Linked DNA regions of Homo sapiens. The protein of the gene in region 1 interacts with the protein of each later gene in a pairwise test. Each region holds a gene or a part of one and is shown in the gene's direction. Other genes may lie near its edges.

Region 1 (7,023 bases):
TGGAGGTAAGGAGCTGGTCGGGGTCCCTGGTGGGGTGGCTGGCTCCCCGTCCCTTGTCCGTGCCGATAGAGCATCTGCTGGGAGCCAGGAGCTGCTGCAGGCACGGGGGGCAGTGGGTGAGGCGTGCAGTCCCAGCCGTCCTGAGCTTAGTGGGAGCCTCGAGCCTTCATCATGCAGTGTATTTGTTTCTGTTGTGATCCAGCTGATCCATTGATCAGTGGGGTTGGGGACGCTTCTGTTCTGCTCATTTATTGCTGTGTAACAAACCACCTCTAAGTGAGGGCTTTAAAACAAGATCGTTCATTTCTTTTGCACATGGGCATTGGGGTACCTGGGCGCAGCTACGCACTTCTCACCTGGGGCCTCATCAGTCAGATGGGGCCAGGTTGGGTTAGCCCCAAGGCTTCTCGCATTGGCCTAAGAGGCCTCAGACAATGAGGGCTTTGGCGGCTGGGGCTCCCCAGCCGCACCCTTCACCTCGTGGCCTCCAGGTAGCCTGTCCACCTGCCAAGAACACACACACCCAGCCCCACAGGTCACCCCTCACCTGCTGCTGCTCCTCTCTCTCCCTGCACGCTCCAAAGTCCCCAGAAGCCTGAGACTCCCAGAGCAACTGTCCCAAAGTCCCCAGAAGCCTGAGACTCCCAGAGCAACTGTCCCAAGGGAACCAAGGCAGAAGCCATGTCACTTTTTAACTTAGCCTCCCTTGGAAGGCAGGCGGCATCACTTCTGCCACATCCTCCTGCTGGCAGTGAGTCACCGCGGCCGGCCCTCAGTCAAAGCCGTGGGAGCTAGACTTCACCCCTCAGTGGGAAGAGCATCGAAGAGTTGGCAGGCGCAGCAAAGCCATGGGAGCTCCCGTGGAAATGAGAGTTCGGGCAGATGTGAGCCCTGGGGAAGAGGCAGCGGGAAGGTGGGAGCTGAGCAGGCTGTGGGGACATCCCGGGCGGAGGCTTGCTGGAGGCCAGGGTGGCTGGAACACAGGGAGCCAAGGGGCAAGAGGTCTGGGATGTGGCTGGATGGGCATGAAGAGCCTTCTGGGTACCTAGAGGTGCTGGGAAGGAGTTTGGATTTAATCTTGGCTGTCCTGTGACAGGGATTCGGAGGCCATGGGGGAGGGCTGAGCAGGGAGACAGGAGACAGGCAAGAGGCGCTGTGAGAAGCGTGGGCTGAGTGACCTGCTCCTTGGTGAGTGAGAAGTTCTAGAACTGAGCACCATGGCATGCACCTGTAGTTCCAGCAACTTGGGATGCTGAGGTAGGAGGATCACTTGAGCCCAGGAGGTTGAAACTAGCCTGGGCAACATAGCAAGACCTCATCTCAAAAAAAAAAAAAATCGTCATTGGAAAGGGAATGTCAGAGGCAGGGCTGTCAGGCGTGTTGACCCCCAGGCCGAAGAGCCACATGTGCAGTCATGAGGCCCTCTAGGAAGCTGTGTGGTAGATGGGCCCAGGGCTCTGAGCCATTCCGTGAGTTTGAGCACCTACTTCATGACAGCCACTGGGGAAGGAACTGGGGAGAGAGAGGTGTCTTAACTTCTGGCCTTTCCACCAGTGCTCAGGGGCCTGCAAACATCCCCCGGGGGCCTGCCCCATGTCCAGACACCGCACGGTAAGCAGATGCCTGGGAGACTCCCATGTCCATTGACATTTGAACCTGGAGAACCTCAGTGCGTGGTCACTGGTGCTACCATTGTACAAGCAGGAAGTTGGGCAGGTGATTTGCCCAGGCTTACACAGCCGGGGCTGCAGAAAGGGGATAGTGGGGTTGCTGGTTTTCAAAACAAGGCCCTTGGGGTGCACAGAGTGTGCTGAGCTAGGGTGGCAGGCCGGGTCCGTAATGCACCCCTGCGGTTCTGGACAGATCCTGTGCTTGATGCTGGAATACAACATCATCGACAACAACGACACCCAACTGCAGATCATCTCAACCCTGGAGAGCACAGACGTGGGGAAGCGCATGTACGAGCAGCTGTGTGACCGGCAGCGGGAGCTGAAGGAGCTGGTGAGTCCCCGGCTGCTCCGGACCACTCCCCTGCCCAGCAGGCCAGGGGGGGCCAGGGCGGGATGCGGGGCAGCTAGTACTTGGACCTGAGTGGACCTCAATCTCGTTGAATTCTCCTCCAAACCCCAGAAATTGGTATTACCACCTGCCACTTTTCAGGTAATCAAAGAGAAGCAAAGCAATCCCCAGAGTCACACAGCTCATTGGGGCCTGGCCAGGACATTGCCCACCCTCCCTCCTCCATGTCCCTTAGACCCTTCCATTTCAGTACATGGGGGACCCAACTTCCAAATGCCAGCACCCACACCTCTTTGCTGAAGGACTTTGTATGTCCACATGCATATACTCACACATGTGTACACAGAAGGACGGAAGGGGCAGGAAATTCATGCCTTCTGATCTCCTGGAGCAGCCCTCAACCAGTCCCTTCTGGGGAGAGTGTGTAGAAATACCCCAGCTCCCTCACCCCTTCAGTGAGATATGTTTGAGACATGGCTTCTCCACCATTTCTTAGAGTCCCCCGGTGGGATTTGGTGCCAGTACCCACCCAGTGATAGCTGGATTGATAACACCCCTTCCATTATAGGTAGCCACAGTGTCACTTCCCCACTCTCCCACTGGTGTTTCTTGGGATCACCCTCCAGTAAACCACCTGTGCTCAAACCTCATCTCCGGGTTTGCCCCTGAGACCAAGACCACCGTGTTGCCTTGTACCACCAAGAAAATAACGATGGCTCCATGAGTGTTGTTAACAGAGGTGGAAGTCTAGAATGGAAACTTGGGGAAAAGAATGGTTGTAACCAGCCTGGTTTCTGTTGCAGCAAAGGAAAGGCGGGCCCACCAGGCTAACACTGCCCTCCAAGTCCACAGTGAGTTGGTTTGGTTCTCTTTGGGGCTGGATGGAGAAGGTGGGTTGGTCCTCTCTGTTGGGGAACGGCAGGTGGTGTCTGCTGCTGAGATGGGAGGTGATGGAGGGCGGGGCACAAGGACCCCCTAGTACTTAACACGCCAGCTCTTCCAGGAGGTAGCTGGGTTACAGGAAGAGAAATGAAAACCAAAAAGGAAGTTAAAATATGATACAGATTGTTGGTGATAATAGTGTTGATATCTAGTTATTAATAGTACTTGGAATAATAGCAGATATACCTTGAGCATTTGTGTGTCAGATGCTCTTCTATTAGTTTGTTTTATCCTCACAGCAACCCTTGGAAGCTTGTGTATCTTACCATTCGCATTTCACAAGGTCTTTAAGGGTCTTATTTCCTTCTATTCTGATGCCCCCATTATATTTGACACATGGCTTCTACTTCCTGGACCAAAAGGGCTGCTCAGGCTCCAGACCTCTTGTCTCCATTCCAGCCAGCAGGAAGGAGAACGTGCCCCTTCCTCTTAAGAAACTTCCTGGAAGTTCTACTTGACATGTCTACTTACATCCCATTTTCCAGATTTAGTGTGTGGGGCCACACACTAAATCAGCCTTCATTCCGGGCAGCCACAGGGCCGCTGACACTCAAGGATGGAGGGGAGTGTGGAGGTTGTCTTAGGAACCTCCCAGTCCGGTGCTCAGGCATGCGCTGGTGTCTTCAGGCATTAGAGTTGAGTGTGGCCTCAGTGTTGGCATGAGCTGCTGCCCAGGAGTGAGGCAGCCAGTCACACACCCTGATGCACAGACACAGACACACAGAGACACACCAACACACACACACACAAATATACACAGACGTGCACAGACACACACATGTACAGACACATGCATACACAAACGTGCACACAGACACACACAGATATACACACATACAGGCACACACACACAGACACACACACACACAGACGCCTGTGGGAGGATCGTGGCCTTGGAACACCCCGCTGGTGCCTCAGGGTGTGAGTCACAGCACTGGAGGCTTTCTCCTCCGCCTGGCAGCTGTCGTCCATGGGATGCGTGGCAGCCCCTCCCTCTCTGGCCACCCCCTTGGCCCATCCCACCGAGCTGTGCCCCCATCTCAGCTCCTGGGATTTACCGCCCCCCAGGAACAGCTCTCTGTAGGGCGAGGGGAGAGGAGGAGGATAGGGGATAGGAGGGCTCAGGGTCTCGGGAACTCCCAGCAGCACCCTCAGGCCTCTCCCCCGTCTGCCCGCAGGACGCTGACTTGGCTCGTTTGCTGAGCTCCGGCTCCTTCGGAAACCTGGAGAACCTCAGTTTGGCCTTCACCAATGTAACCAGTGCCTGCGCCGAGCACCTCATCAAACTGCCTTCGCTCAAGCAGCTGAACCTGTGGTCCACTCAGGTACGTCCTCCCGCCCTGCTGCAGTCCCCCACACCCTCCTCCTTCACCTCTGCACTCTCCTCCCTATTCCCCCGTACCATCTTCCTTTCCCCTCAGCCTCCTCCCTGCCCCCTCCCCCTCCTTCCTGCCCCCTCCCCCTCCTCCCTGCCCCCCTTACTCTCCTCCCTGCCCCTTCACCCTCCTCCCTGCTCCCCTCACCCTCCTCCCTGCCCCCTCACCCTCCTCCCTGTCCCCCTTACTCTCCTCCCTGCCCCCTCACCCTCCTCCCTGCCCCCCTTACTCTCCTCCCTGCCCCTTCACCCTCCTCCCTGCTCCCCTCACCCTCTTCCCTGCCCCCTCCCCCTCCTCCCTGCCCCCTCCCCCTCCCCTACCCACTTACCCTCCTCCCTGCCCCCTCACCCTCCTCCCTGCCCCCTCACCCTCCTCTCTTTCCCCTCACCCTCCTCCCTGCCCACTCACCCTCCTCCCTGCCCCCTCACCCCCCCACCCACTCACCCTCCTCCCTGCCCCCTCACCCTCCTCCCTGTCCCCCTTACTCTCCTCCCTGTCCCCTCACCCTCCTCCCTAACTCGTTCACCCTCCTCCCTACCCCTTCATCCTCCTCCCTGCCCCCGTCACCCTCCTCCCTGCCCCCTCACCCTCCTCCCTGCCCCTCACCCGCTTCCCTGCCTACACCCCAGGCATTGCTTACCACACGACCCTTCCCTCAAGCTCAGCACCCACTCCCTGAGGCTAGAGGAGGTTGAGGACCTCATGAAGCCCTGCAGCCCATTTCCCATTTGGAAATAATGTGCCCAGTTCCGAGTCCTGAGGTTCTGAGAGGTAGAGCTGAGACGTGAGCCAGGCTTCGCTGGCCTGCGGGGGGCTGCGCAGGAGGCTTCTGGGTCTTTTTGTTATAGTAACACCAGTGGCTGCTGAGTCCCAGCTCAGTGTGAACTGCACTGCTCAGTACTCTGCACAGGGCAGATGAAGGGGCCTTCACTGCACACCTGTGAAGTGCAGGTTCTACCCTCACCCTAATTTTCCAGAGGAGAAACTGGGGACAGTCCCTGCAGCCTGCCCCCGGCCCAGCCCTGTCCTTCCACTGTCCACCCAGCAGGAGAAAGCCACCTAGGCAGCATCTCGAAGCTAGGGAGAGACAAGTTCAAAGCCCTCCTTCATGGAGGCAAAACTGACTCCAAGGGGGCCCTGGCCTGGCTCCACTCCCAACAGCAGAAGCTGGATTCTAACCCGGTTCAGAGAGGCGTGGGATTGTTTAGGGGACGTGAACGCAGCCCAGACCCCAGGGCTTGGTGGGCCATGGGCCTCAGAGCCAGGCTCTGTCCCCATCCCTTTCCTCCACCTCTGCCCCAGCCTCAGAGTCACTTCCCCAGGAGTGGCCGGGAGAGGGCTGAGAGTTTCTGTGCTCTACAGTTTGGAGACGCTGGCCTTCGGCTCCTGTCGGAACACCTCACCATGCTCCAGGTGCTGAACCTGTGCGAGACCCCGGTCACAGACGCTGGCCTGCTGGCCCTGAGCTGTGAGTGCCTCCGGGGCAGCTGGGGGGTGAGGGGCCGCTTGATTCATTCCTTCCTTGCTTCAGCCAAACTGGCCAAGCACTGACTTTGCACCATGCACAGATAGAGAAATTCGTTCATTCACAAACGTGTTCACTGCACACCTGCTGTGGACCAGGCACCATTCCATGTGCCAGGAACAACACAGGGAAAAATATCCCTAACCTCAGAGAGCTTATATTCTAGAGGCAATAGAAAAAATGAGTAAGGCCAGCCCATAGCCTCTTGACACTCACAGTCCACTGAGGGGTCGAGTTCAAGGACGGGGCTGTAGTACATTGCCACTGTGGTCCCCTGACCAGTGGTGGCAGCGTCTTCTGGGGGCTGGTCAGAAATGTACATTCCCAAGCCCACTCCAGACCTCCTGACTCAGACACCGTACGGTAAGCAGATGCCTGGGAGGCTCCCGTGCCCGTTGACATTTGAGAAGCCCTGTCATAATAGAAGGAGGCACAGAATTCTCAAGGAACCTAGAAAGGCCAGTTCCTGTGTGCCAAACCCCAGGTGACTGAACTAGCCTCAGGGATATTGAGCCCGGGATTCTGTATTTGACCAGCTTTCCCTTTTCCAGGCCCACTGCTTTAGACGGGAAGACCCGTGGCTCAGTGGGAAGAGTCAGAAAAGGCTTCCCGGGGAGGTGCTGTTGAGTCTGGGTGTGAAGACAGATTTGTGGGAGTTGGCCAAGGGGGAGGCACCCTGAGCAGGGGCCATGACTCCTACCGGGCCGCTGGCAAATGCTGGGTGGCTTGGGAGGAGGTGGGAGCAGGTGACTGGGTCAGTGGAGGCAGAGCGGCAGCGCTCGGCCAGTTTGGCTGCAAATGCAGATGCGCTGCTTCCACTGGAGTCCCCCGGGGGGGCGCGGTCCTCATCAACAGCACAGATTCCTGGTCCCTGCTGCGGCCCTGCTCAGCGTCTCTGGGAGTGGGTGGAGGGGTCTGCCCCCCGTGCGACTCCAACACAAACCAGAGGTTGAGGCTTGCTTTCAAGAAGCAGCACCGAGTCAATGACGACGGGGGGACCATCCGGGGTTCCCTTAGTGGGGAGGCCTCGGGCCTGATCTGGGGTGTGGCAGGCAAGCTCTGGGGACATCAGGTCCAGGCAGTGGGGGCACACGACAGAGGGACCAGAAGGGAGGGAGGCTCAGAGGGTGGGAAGAAAACGAAGGCTCTGTTCAGACC
Region 2 (7,683 bases), on another chromosome or scaffold:
TTTTTTTCATAGGCTAAGCATTTTCTGACTCAGGACCATTGCACCGGCTATTCGTTCTGCCTGGAGCACTCTTCCTCCAGATCATTGTATGCCCAACTCCTTATGTCTCCACTACAATGTCATCTCTGAACAGGAGCCTTCCCTGACCATCCTAACTAAAACATTCCCCCTCCTGCCATCATTCTGTCCTATTATCCTCAATTAGTGTCTTATGGGCTTATCTCCCCCAAATATTATTATGTTTATTTTTTTTTCTTTTCTGTCATTATTGTCTGGCTCCTCCTACTAGAATGTAAACTTCCTAAGAACTGGGATCTTGGGTAACTAATAGAACATAGTAGGTGAGAGCATGGCTTCTGGAGGCAGACTCTCTAAATTTGAATCTCAGTTCTGCCACTTACTAGCTGTGTTACTCTGGGCAAGTTACTTAACTTCTCTGTGCCTCAACTTCCTCTTCTGTAAAATAAGGATGATAATAATATATACTTCCTGTGAAGTTTTTGCAAGGATTAAACTAACTTAATACATGCAAAGCACTATATATCCCTGGAACCTAGGAGAGTGCCTGGCATGTAGTAAGTGTTCAGTAAATATTTGTTGGCTGTTTGCATGAATTAATCCTCGATACCTCCTGCTGTTTCCCTCCCTTCCTCTCTCATCCTGCCTAGTTTTGTTCAGGAAGCTTTTCCCTGACTCCTTGCCCACTTCTCAGGACTAAATTGGTTCTCCCCTTATGTGTGTGTGTCTTGCTCACAGAACCTAGACTTATTTCAAGCCCTGATTGCTAGGTATAACTATATATGTATGCATGATCTTTGTAATAGCTGGTCTCTCTCACTAAATGGTAAGCTTGGTAAGGGCAGGGCCCATGTCTGTCGTATCTGCTATGAAATCTTCACTGAAACCTCGATGGTTCCTGACATATCATAGGTGCACAATAAACATTTTTGGGCTGAAAACTTTTGGCTCACTTTTCTCTTAGAAATGCTGATTAAGAAATATAATGAGAAATTTAATAAGTAATTTGCACTACTTTTTGAAAGGCAATTTGGAACCAAGACTGTTGTTGCATCTCTGCCTCCTTTTAGTTTAGTTCACTGTTGAAGTACAAAGAAATATCTGTGAATTCAATATTCTGGCCTCCATTTTTAAAGTCTTGATCTATTCCCTGAAAGTATAATCGAGACTGACTGGCTTCCCTTTTGCTAATTTCTTGCATTTTAATGGTATTAACCCCAACATACCCTGCCTTATTGCCTTAGCAATAAGAATAATGTTGGCCCTGATAAAACTAAGATTTTTTTTTATTTCTAACCCCTCAAATCAATCAGTTCTTCTAATAAAATCATGCATTAGAACTCACTGCTAGCCCATATCTTAAATATTGTTTCAGCCATTGCAAACTTCTGATCAATTGAGAGCTACTGAACACTTACTATGGAAAAGCCACCACCTTGGCTTGCAGATACTGTTTTAAGTGCTGCTTCAGAAGAAGGGGCAGAAGGCTATAGTTTCCTTCTCTTCCCCACTGTTTCTCTACAACATTTTCCTTCCTCTCACTGCTAGCCTGGATTCTTAAAATTCAGCAAGGAACAGGTGAGACATCTGTTCTCAAGGAGGTCAAGGAGCCAAAAGCAAACCAGCAGAAGCTAAGAGGCACATTACTCTTTCTGTATTTGGACATTTTAATTGTTACAAATAGCACAAACCTTCTTCCAAGCTCCAGGTTTTCCCATGGCCTCTTCTCTTAGATTAACTGCTATCTCCCTTAAATGTCCATAGTTGGAAGCATGGGACATGCTTGGCCCTCTGCAGACACCCTATATTGGAGTGCACCTTCTGGCTGAAAAGTAACAGAGGCATTCAGGCCCCATGGTAGCAGCAGCAGCTTGATACAGGCCGCATGGGGCCATAGGAAGAGCACAGGCCCTTGAGTCAGGAGTCTTGGTTCTGTTTCAGCCAAGTAGGGTGATGTCAGACAAGTCCTTTGCCTCTCTTGGTCTCAGTTTCCTCATCTGTAAACTAGGATTTCGGTGAGGCTTGAAAGACAAGATAGTTCCCAAATTATTACCAAATCAGACTCTAAACCCATTAACATATTTAATTGAAACAGATACATACCCACATCCAGACTTTTACCAGATGTGTGAACATAGTCAGTGGTAAGGATTCTTAAGGTGAAGGGGACAATGGAAAAAGAGAGAGACATTAAATTTAAAATCTCAAAGGCTGTTCATAAATTGCTTCCCACACATCCCATACAAACCCTCCGCTTCTCCCCAAGCCAGCATTAATGCATTATAAACCACTTTATGTTTGACATAGATACATACACTCGGGACCCCATTGTAGTTTTGGTTGCTATATATATATATTTTTTTTTTCCAGACACACTCTCTTCATTAATCTGCAAGTAACTTGGTCCAAACTGGGCACAGGCTCTAGCTTTATAACTTATTGTGTGGACATGGCAAAACAACTTTCCCTATCTGAGTCAGTTTTCTTCCTTCTAAAAGGGGATGAATCTACTTGCCCCCTTCATAGTGGTTGTGAGGATGAAATGATAGATTGTACATATCAGACTCAGCACAGTAGCCAGTACATGTCAGGCACTTAACGCAGGCTTGTTGCTTACCTCCTCCCCTTACGGGACAGAGCTGGGGCCAGTTCTTGGCTCTGGATCCACAGGCTTTGTGACTAACCAACTCAATGTTCTTTAAATACCAACTAGTGGCTGTACAAGATAGCAACCTTCAAGACAATAGGAAAATGTAGACACCAGGGAGAATTTTATGGTTAAGAAAGTTATTACATCTTGGATCCAAAGAAGAGAAGGGCTTTAATTTCTTCCCTGGAGAATGCTTAAAATCACTGTGGACATCCAGAATGACATGAGATTCATGTTCCACAAACTTCTCAAGCTCCTACAAAATACCAAGCCCTGTATTCAGCATGATCATGGGAATGATCTCATAGAGGCCTCCCAACAAGCCTCTGAGGTGGGCTCACTAGGTACATTTTTCAGATGAGGAAACTGAAGCTCAATAAAAGAAAGCACAAACTCAGAGAGAGTTCTGACTCACTTTTAGTTGGGAGTGAGTCACCATCTTCCTTTTGCCCAACGTCCAGCTCTCTAGGCCTGTTTGTGCACGCTGAGTAACTGCCTCTTACCTGGTCTCATGTCCTCTAATCATTCTCCACTTTGCTTCCAGAGTCCCTCTCTAAAATATTCCTCCATCCTTATCACTACCGTGCTTTGAAACATAAAATAATTAAACATTACTTGGTGCAGAATAAGCACTTAAAAAATGTTTATTAGGGCCAGGCGCAGTGGCTCATGCCTGTAATCCCAGCACTTTTGGGAGGCTGAGGCGGGTGGATTGCTTGAGCTCAGGAGTTCAAGACCAGTCTGGCCAACATGATGAAACTCCATCTCTACTAAGAAATACAAAAATTAGCCGGGCATGGTGGGTGGGCGCCTGTAATCCCAGTTACTCGGGAGGCTGAGGCAGTAGAATTGCTTGAACCCAGGAGAAGGAGGTTGCAGTGGGCCGAGATCTGTGCCATTACACGCCAGCTTGGGCGACAGAGTGAGACTGTCTCATAAATAAATAAATTAATTAATTTAAAAGTTTATTAGATAAATGTCTGCCTACAGGATTAAGTCCAAACCCTTTAGTCTGACATTTAACGTATTTCATAGTCTGGTTCCTACCTGCCTTTTCTAAATACTACATCTCCCATTTCTTTTTTCCACCTCTACACCTCATATAAGAAACCTATATTTCAGGCACTCTGAACCACTCATCCTTTCCTTTCTCTCTCTATTGTATCCTCACCTGGAGAGCCCATTCTCCTCTATGGTCTGACAAATTCTTAGTCACTCTTGAGACCTATTTACATCTTCTCTGCACAGGTTACACCTTATCTATTCCTGTATTTTGACACCACACTGTACTGTAATTAATAGGTAAATTTTCAGCCTCTTCTGTTCCTCAAAGGCAAGGATTTGCTTTTATTTATCTGCCTTGCCCGGTGACTCCTACAGTACTTCTTCCATTGACTGGCAAAGTCCGAGCTTAAGTAATTGTTTGTTGAATGGGTAAGTAGCTGGAAGTACTTACCCACTCTCCTTTCCCCCAGCTTTTGCAGCATCTCCCTCCTCCCATCCTCCTCTTCCCCACCCCCGCCCCACCCTAAATTGAATGCCAAAGTTACTGGTCCCCAGGCAGCAGCTAGCACATTCAACGTCTCCAAAGCTACTTTCCCTGCAGGGTTTCTTTCCATCCCCAAGGCGTAATTAGCGACTACCGCTAATCTTTTGCGGGTGGGTAGGTGCGAGGGCCCCCGAAGGGAGCGAATGGGTATGTCTCTCATCTCTCCAATTGCCTTCAGGAATATTTTTTTCTCCATTTTCCCACACACGGGCCAGACGAATATCCCCATTCCTTTGCACTCTTCACAACCTTTGACATAATTATCTATAACAAATTGATTTAAAGTGCGGCTGCAGGAAGGGAAACAGGCATGTCTCGCTTGGCCTTCTGGGAGTTGTAGTCCTACAGGCCCCCGGGCTTCCTGGCTGGCCCTGAAGCTCCGGACTACAGCTCCCAGGCCTCTCCAAGCCCCTACCGCACAGGCTCATAGCCCCAAGCCCGGAGGAGGTGGCTACATTGTGTCTATTGTATCCCTTGGCTGGTGTATTTGTACATCTCTCGGGACGTGAAATTGACAGTGAAAAGTATGGCAGATGAGCAAGAAATCATGTGCAAATTGGAAAGCATTAAAGAGATCAGGTAAGTGGCACGTTGTCCCCCTCCCCGCCCCTCTCCAACCCTTCGTTGCGGGAGAGGGCTAATTATCTATTGTTGGGCTGTTTGTCTAGAGGAGCTGGAAAGGGGCCCATTCACCACAGACTTGCCGGAGAGGTGAGGATGGGAGGGGCGCTGAGGAGAGTTGAGAGAGAGAGAGACCTCTTGCCAGATGTGGCTGAGAAAGCAAAGATGAAGAAACACGGGTTTGGTACCAAGACAGTTTTATTCTTCTCGAGGTGGAGGTCAGGGCTCTGCATTCATGGACACGTTTTTTAAAAGTACTTGTGTGCCCCAAGGTGTCTTTGGCTCCTTGCTCTTTAGGAGTCGGGATTTTTTTCCAGTCTCTTGTTCAACTTCAGAACCTGGAGTTCGGGAAAGGCTTTTGAGAGCCAAGTCTAGCGCATCGGGGCTGGTGGCTGCTGCCAGGGGCTGCCAACTGGGGGTTGCAGAGGAATCTCAGCGGGCGGAGCTGGGAGAATGGCGCGCGCTCGTTTTCCTTTCACTCACTCGCCACTTTCTTCCTTCCTATCCCGCGCTTGGGAGGGGGATGGGAGCAATGGGGACTGGGGACGCGGTCGCTGCGCTGATGGTGGGATCGCGACAGCTGCTCTGAGGAGCTGGAGGTGACAGGCGGGCTGGCAAAGTGGGAGTTGCCGAAGTGGAGTCCGCTACACGGTTGCTCCTGGAGCAGCTTTTGGCAAAGCGATGATATTGTCCTTGCTCAGAACACAATAGCGCCAGGCGGGCTGTGTGGGCTGGCACAAGGTCTTTCTTCACCTCGCCTTCTCAGCGTGAGCCCCTGCTTTGGCTTTTGCTCTCACTCTGAGAGTGGCCTGGGTCAAGCTCTCTCCCTGGAGTGTTTTCTGAGAACCCAAGGTGGAAGATGTCAAGTGTGTTTCTTTAAGAAATAAGACTTTGATCATGAGATTTAACCCTTAGAGTGCTGGATGAGACCTACACATGGTGATTAGTGGTGGTAGGTAAAGCACCTTGGTTTCTTCTTCTTCTTGAGGGGTTGCATCTCTCTTTCTACAGGAGAGGTAAAGGAAGGGAACTATCATTTATTGAGTCCCTTCCCGCCCCTGTGTGCCAGGCCCTTTGACCTACTTTTGCTCATTCAGCAAGAGTCCTGTGAGCTTCCTACTCCTCCTTTACAGCTGGGGAAATAGAGGCCCAGAGAATTTGAGTGATTTTCCCACAGCCACGCAGCTTGAAATTGCCACATTTTGTTGGTCTGCCTGCAAAGGTATTCCTTTTCCCACTATGTCCCAGGTAAAGTCTGGAAAGGAGAAGGGAATATGTTGCAATTTTTTTTTTTTTTTTTTTTTTTTTTGGCAAAAGCATCAGAAGCTAGCTAGAAAGTGAGACACCTTAGTACAGTAGAATGCCAGCTGTCATAACGATGCAGCTAGTCAGAAGCTTAGGCTTGCAAATGGAGAGCCTAGACTTCCACTCTCACCAAGCTTCAAAGGAACCACCACCCCATGCCCAGAGAAGGACCAGTTGTGAGCAAGGACTTTAATCCCCAGTGAAAATAGACCTCTCCCAGTGAAGACCATATGGAGAACCATGACTTCTACCCTTACCAGTGGTAACTAGGAGTTTCTACCTCAACCAGCTAGGATGGAATCAGCATAGGCCCAGAGAGAAGGCCAAACTTTCACCTCTAAACAGCAGTAACAAACAGCCCTTCTCCAAACTGGATGTCAAGAGACAGTGGAGAAACTGGACTTCTACTGTCCCTCTTCCATCCAAGAGAGTGGTAGAGGACTGCTAAAACAAAAGATTTAAATAAGATCCAGAGTATCCAACTTTTAATCAAAAATCACTTTCCATACTAAGATATCCACTTGAATGAGAAGAGAAAATAAACAGATGCCAATACTGAGATAACACCCATGTTAGAATTATCTGATAAGGATCTTAAAGCACCTGTCCTAAAAACATTTCAGTGAGCAGTTACAATACACTTGAAACAAATGATAATGTAGAAAATCTCAGAAAATGAATAGAAAGTCTCAACAAAGAAATATAAAACATAAAGAAGAACAAAGTGACATTTTTAGAACTGAAAAATACAGTAACATAAAAACCCCAAAAAACTCAATGGATAGGTTCAACAGTAAGGTGGAGAAGAGAGAGGGAAAAAATAGCTTACAAATATAAAACAATAGAAATCACTGTGGCACTATAACAAAAGCTTTAACATTTATGCCAACAAATTCCCAGGAGAAAGAGGGCAGGATTGGAAAAGTATTGGGAAAAATAATGACTAAAATCTTCCCAAATTGTGCAAAAGACATAAACATTTAGATTCAAGAAGAGGAGCAAACACCAACATAATTGACACAAAGAAACACACTCCAAAACACATTGTAATCAACCTTCTGAAAATGAAAGAAAAAGGAAACTTCTTCAAAACAGCTGAAGAGAAACAAAAGCTACAAAGGAAAAAAAAAATTAGAATGACAGATTTATCATCAGAAACTGACGATGCCCTAGCATTTTGTAAGTGCTGAAGGAAAAGAAGTGACAACCCATAAATCTATGTCCAATAATAATATCCTTCAGTATTGAATGGGTAATCAAGACATTCTCCAATGAAGAAATACTAAGGAATTTAGATATACCCTAAAAAAAGATGATAGTAAGCTCTGAAAACAGAAAAGAAACAATAAACAGTAAGCAAAAGCATGGTTAATGCAGTAGACTTTCTCTTTCCTCTTGAAATTTCTTGTATTTTGATAATTGAAGCTAAATTTATACTGTTATCTAGTGTGGTCTCAGCATATGTAGAGGAAATATTTAACACATTTATATTGTAAACTGGGGAATGTAAAGGGGATTGTAAATGTAAAGAGATGTAAAG

Evidence for each region. The genes of interacting proteins can lie anywhere in the genome.
Region 2: the proteins of CMIP (region 1) and ZC4H2 interact in binary tests that used the Homo sapiens proteins (3 or more experiments, as listed by UniProt).

Annotation. Positions count from the first base shown.
Region 1 is NC_000016.10:81,699,797-81,706,819, forward strand, and holds part of CMIP (C-Maf-inducing protein), read left to right. Parts: coding exon 1-5; intron 6-1,863; coding exon 1,864-2,004; intron 2,005-2,825; coding exon 2,826-2,873; intron 2,874-4,142; coding exon 4,143-4,289; intron 4,290-5,702; coding exon 5,703-5,808; intron 5,809-7,023. UniProt on the Homo sapiens protein: Plays a role in T-cell signaling pathway. Isoform 2 may play a role in T-helper 2 (Th2) signaling pathway and seems to represent the first proximal signaling protein that links T-cell receptor-mediated signal to the activation of c-Maf Th2 specific factor.
Region 2 is NC_000023.11:64,973,438-64,981,120, reverse strand, and holds the start of ZC4H2 (zinc finger C4H2 domain-containing protein), read left to right. Parts: upstream 1-4,670; 5' UTR 4,671-4,743; coding exon 4,744-4,796; intron 4,797-7,683. UniProt on the Homo sapiens protein: Plays a role in interneurons differentiation. Involved in neuronal development and in neuromuscular junction formation.